2 separate regions of the Homo sapiens genome follow, and region 2 is linked to region 1. Evidence: fine-mapped expression QTL. A gene starts in region 1. The other region holds a variant in brackets. All regions are shown on one strand. Distances are between the middles of the regions. Region 1 holds the start of COTL1 (coactosin like F-actin binding protein 1). Region 2 has its middle 45 kb from the start of MEAK7.

Region 1 (2,500 bases):
TTCACACCATAGATTAGTTTCGCCTTGTCTAGGATTTCTAAATGGAATCATATGGTGTGTACTCTTTTGCATCTGATTCTACTCGTCAAATTAAAAATCACATAAAATCAGCACACGGGCAGACAATGATAGCGGGAGAAAGGAGGGCGCGGCTGAGTTTCTTTCCCTTCCAAGCAGCCCCCTAGCCTGTTCGTATTTGGGCTCAGTGACTGATCAAAGGGGACAGTGGGAAGAGCTGGATGGACACTGGAGTTTGGAAACACAGGAGTTGACCTTAGAAAACCAGTGGACCGCAGGGGGCAAAAGAGCTGCCCCGCCTGGAGAAGGCATTGTAGGATGGCGGAGGCAGGTGGGTCACTTCTGTTGCTTCGGATGTCCAGAGGGGAGAAGGTTTTATGAGGCCTTAAAACGCTCACACCGGGTTCCTCCCACGCCATGCGCCAGGGGCACCCCATGTGGCCACCGGTTCCTCCCGGGTTCGCTCTGGCCGGGGCTCCCCGGGTGCAGACAACCTCCCAACGACCGCGCATCCGCCCGGCAGGCGCGCCTCCCTACCTGTGCACTGCTGGATGAAGTGCTGGTACTCCGCTCCCTGCTCGCCGGGGACGATGGTGGAGCCGTCATATTTAAAAGTCACCCTTTGGGTTGGGAGAAGAAAAAAACACACACACACATCAGCGCTGGTGGCCGCGCGACGCGGCGCTTGCAGAGGACAATCTAACAGACGCGCTGGCCACGGAGAAGCCCGCGGGGGCCTGGCACGCCGTCCCGGAATAAGGCGAGGAAGACAGCGCGGGAGGCCCGAATCCGTCCCGCCTGGAGGCCGGCTCGGTGCACGAGGCCCCGCGCGAGCCCGGGGAGCGGGGCGTGGAGACGAATGAAAAGTTCCTACCAGATGACGGCCGAGCCGTCGTCGCGCACCAGGTTGTACGCCGCCCGGCAAGCCTCTTTGTCGATCTTGGTGGCCATCGCCGCGGAGCCGCAGCGGGACACTGTCCGGGGCGGCCGAGCGCGCCCCTGGCCGGCGGCGGGGATGGGAGCGCGGCGGGTACGCGCCGAGGGCGCACGGGCTGGCGGCGGTGGCGACGGCTACGCGGCGCCTGCAAGCTGCGAGCGCGGCGGCGGCTTCCACTGCGGACGGAGAGCGCGCGGGGACCCCAGGCCGTGGCCCGCCCCGCCCCCCCGCGCCCATTGGCCGCCCAGGCGGCGGCCCGCCTCTTCATTGGCCGTCGGGCTGCGGGGGCGGAGCGTCTTGATTCTCTGGCGGCCAATCCCAGACCGGAAGGCTTGCGCAACTCCGCGGTGGGGGCTGGAGTAGGGGCTTTGCCTCCTCCCTCTCACTCTCCCTCCTCCCTCCCGCTCTCTTCTCCCCCAACATCCCTCTTCTCTCTCCTTCTCCTTCTCACTTCCCCTCCTCCCCTCCCGACCCCTCCCTGGAAACTCCCACTACCCCAACCCCCTTTCCCACCCCGCCTTCCTCCTCTCCCTCCTCCTTCCTCTTCTTCCCCCACTGCTTGCTTCCCCCACTTCCCTGACCTCTTCCCCCTCCCTTCCCTCCCCCTCTTTCTCCCTTCCCCCTTTATTCTTCTTCCTCTCTCCTCCTCCCTCTTCTTGCCTATCCCAGCCCAAAACTTCTCCATCCTCCCTATTTCCTTCTCCCCAAGCTCTCCTCTTTCCTCCTCCTTGACCCCCTCCCCTGCTGCCCCCGGCTTCGCCTCCCTCTTCTCCACTTACCCTCCTGGCATCTCCTCCCTCCCTGTCCCCTACTCCCTCCTCCTATTCCCCCTCTCCCCCTTCCTCATTCTCCCCACCCCCCTGCCCCTGAGGCTGCAGGGCTGCAGAGCTCCACAGGGGACCTCCACGTGGATGATGTAATGCGTCAAACCCAAGGAGACAGGCTGGCCACTGTCCCTACCCCAGCGTTTGGTTCCATGGATTCTAGGTGGGGAGGAACTGGAAAGAATGAAGCATTTTAAATAGGAGGGGGTAGAAAGTGGACTGCTTCCAAAACGCTGGTGGGCTCGCGTTTACTCTGGATTCTGGTCATTTGCATTCCTATCTTAACCTCTCCCTTTGGGCTCCTCTGAAAGCACGAGCTGACTCATTCTGTCTTCCTCATTCCTTCACTGACTCATTCATTCATTCCCTCATCCAGCCATTCCACAGAGACCAGTTACAGCGTCCAGGTAGGTAAAAAGGCAGGATCCTGAAGACTGGGCTCTTGAATTGCATCCAGTACTGCCACTTTCCAACTGGGGGCCATTGGAAAGCCTCAAAACCTCTTTTAAATGACTCCTCAAATGGGAAAAATAGTATAACTGACATCACTGCTTTGTTTTAAGTGTAATTGAAATGATACTTGGAACAAATATACTAGACATTCGATAAAATGTCATCATTGTTGGTTATTAAGTGATAAAAACAAATCCTAAATAGAAACCCAAAAGGTCAGGGACAATGTCCAATTAATGTTAGAATTCTCAACAAGCAAAAAAACAAA
Region 2 (3,009 bases), 69 kb before region 1:
GGCTTGTGGGAGGCAACATTTTCTTCTGTCTGACAGCCCCCTCCAACTCCCCCAGCCCGGGATCCCTCCCTGACAGCTGGTGGGCTGAGCCTGCTTCCCGAGGCTGGGCTTTGGGGTTGGGGTCTCTTTGTCAGCCCAGGAATAACCCAGCACCCACCCGCCCAACCCACACACATACACAAACAGTTCATTCACCCTGCAGGAGAGGTCAGGCCCTCCCACAGCATCTGCCCAAGATGCTCGCAAATCCACGGGGACAATCCCAGGCCTGGGGCATCTCCATGTCACATAGGAGGGGGGGGGGTGCTCAGCCGAAAGCGGGGCCTCGAGAGGCTCTAAAGACAGCAGCACACGGCTGGGCGCGGTGGCTCACGCCTGTAATCCCAGCACTTTGGGAGGCTGAGGCAGGCAGATCACCTGAGGTCAGGAGTTTGAGACCAGCCTGACCAACATGGAGAAACCCTGTCGTTGCTAAAAACACAAAATTAGCTGGACGTGGTGGCAAATGCCTGTAATCCCAGCTACTCAGGAGGCTGAGGCAGGAGAATCACTTGAACCCAGGAGGCGGAGGTTGCGGTGAGCCGAGATTGTGCCATTGCACTCCAGCCTGGGCAGCAACAAGAGTGAAACTCGATCTCAAAAAAAAAAAAAAAAAAAGCAGCACAGGGCTCACTTTTCCCTCAGACCCTGCAGGGCCATGGAAACAGCCACAGGGGCTCAGGCAGCTGAAGAGAATGTTCTAGAATCCACAAAGAGCCTGGCCTGGCAGGAGCCTGGGGACCTGGAGATGCAGCCGGGTGCATCTATTCAGGCTTTCAAGCCTCCAGCAACCTGGAGACCTGCTGTCTCCACGCCTCGCCTCTCACACGGAGCCAGCCTGTGGGGCGAGTGGCTGCCTGCTTCCACCACCCCGACTCCTCCGTGTTGGTTGGCCAGGGTAATGAGAATGTGCTTGTTTTGATGAAATGTCAATCACTTGTATATAAATATCTATATTTAGGACTCCTTTAGAAAATAAGAAAATCTGGGAGCACACAGTCACCATGCAGCTGCCCTCTTTAGAAAGACACGCGCCCTCCCCTGGCCACAGTCCCCACCTCTCCCTGTTGTCTCCTTGGTGCCCAGCCTCCAGCCCTCCTCCCCGTACTTGCCAGGCCCCGGAGGCCTTGGATCCCCAGTCCCCTGCCCAGAGATGCCCCGGGGCAGCCAACCCCATGCCAGACGAGAGTCTCAACCGAGCAGGGAGGCAGGCTGAGACGCAGGAGGCCTTGCCCACTTAGAATCAGCCACCAGTGATACAGAGGGTGGAGGAGGAGAGGCAGGAGGATGGAGGAAGGACATGCCAAGGTCTCAAGCTGGAGAACACGGGGCTGATGGGGAGGTGGCAGAGACAGGGCCTGCTGGGAGAAGCAGGAAAGGCAGAGAATGTGTCCATGCGTC[C/T]GGAGCCCTGACCTGTGGTGGGGCCGTTCTGTCGGCAACCGGGACATGCGCTTGTCTGAGTTCCAGGAAGAGAGAGCTGTGTGCACATCCTGTCATCAGAGCAGCTTGAAATAAATGCCCCTATTTGTGTATCCGATTGGCAACAAGTAAAAGATTAATGATAGGAGACAGAAAGCAGATGAGTGGCTGCCGGGGGCCAGGGAGGGGGTGGGGAGTGACTGCCTAATTGATACGAGTTTTCCTTTTGGGGTGACAGGAAAGTTCTGGGGCTAGAGCAGCGGGGGTGGCACAATATCGTGAGTGTGCTGAATGCAACGGACTGGATCACTTTAAAATAGTTAAAATGGTAAGTCCTATGTCGCGTGTATCTTACCACAGTTAAAAAAAGATGACTCATATCCATTGTTGGTGAGGGCAGGGGAAAGGGGGCAGACTGTCAATCAACACGTGGCTTCGGGAGGACAATTTGGTAATTCACATCCATAATGTCCTTTTTTATGTTTTAATTTTTAATTTTTATTTTTTGTAGAGACGGGGATCTCATTTTGTTGCCCCAGCTGGTCTCAAACTCCTGGCCTCAAGTGATCCTCCCAATTCGGCCTCTCGAAGTGCTGCGATGACAGGAATGAGCCACTGCTCATGCAGCACACATCGATAATTTAAATGGTTAGCCCAAAAATCTTTTAGAAATCCACCCCACAGAAATTCTGAAATAAAGACTTGTGTGAAAGGAGGTTCAAGACAGAAGTGTTCCTTAAAAGCGCAATTGCTGGAAACCATAGGAATGCCTTACCAGTTTTCTTTTGTTGTGTAACAAAGTACAACAAACTTGATGACTTCAGACAACACTCTTCCCTCCCCATAAAAACACCCAAGTCACTGGTGATGTCACAGTTCTGCAGTTGAGAAGTCTGGACAAGCACGGTTGGACTCTCTGCTCAGGGCATCCTAAGGCCAAAATCAAGGTGCCAGCTCACTGCATTCTCACCTGGAGCCCAAGGGCCTCTTCTGAGATCACTTGGTGGCTTTAAGACAGGGGTTCCCGTATTTCCCAACTGTGAGAGCCATGAGCCATCCTTACCTCCTGGAGGCCTTTCTGACCCACCCCCCGCAACAATGGAGAATTTCCCTGTTCCCTGAAGTCAAATCCCTCTCCTACTTACAATCTCCCTGTCAGAAAGAATCCCAGCCCTTTTAAGGGCTCGACTGATTGGGTCAGGCCCACTGAGGGTCATCTCCCATTCTCAAAGTCAACAATGTCATAAAACACACTCTAATCTAATCACAGAGTGATACCCCCATCACGTTGGTAGGATCCTTTATGGGGTATAGACGTCAGCCTCAACAGTGTCTGTCAACAGGGGACTAGTTCATCTCCATAATCTCAAATACTGGAGACTTTTTCAATAAATGAGATATCTCTATATGAACATTTTCCTTGAGGTGTTGTTAACGACATGCAAATAATTGATGCAATTTCATCAGTTTCCTTGATGTAATTGCAAAACTACACATATACCTATTATATATATATAATTTCATGTATAATTGTATATGTACAATTTCACT

Evidence for each region. PIP is the estimated chance that this variant, and not a neighbour inherited with it, causes the effect.
Region 2: its variant is the best candidate, but not a certain one, in a credible set for the expression of COTL1 in spleen (GTEx, PIP 0.74).

The regions. Positions count from the first base shown.
Region 1 is chr16:84,616,946-84,619,445 of GRCh38, forward strand. COTL1 (coactosin like F-actin binding protein 1) reads right to left here and starts at 1,133. Exons shown (of 4, transcript NM_021149.5): 1 at 893-1,133; 2 at 556-638. The coding sequence starts at 969. RefSeq lists silencers at 962-1,011, 1,032-1,391.
Region 2 is chr16:84,547,919-84,550,927 of GRCh38, forward strand. No RefSeq gene overlaps it. Among named protein-coding and RNA genes, the nearest start is that of MEAK7, 45 kb to the left of the region's middle. RefSeq lists enhancers at 1-222, 974-1,723. The variant C/T (reference allele first, on the strand shown) is at 1,441.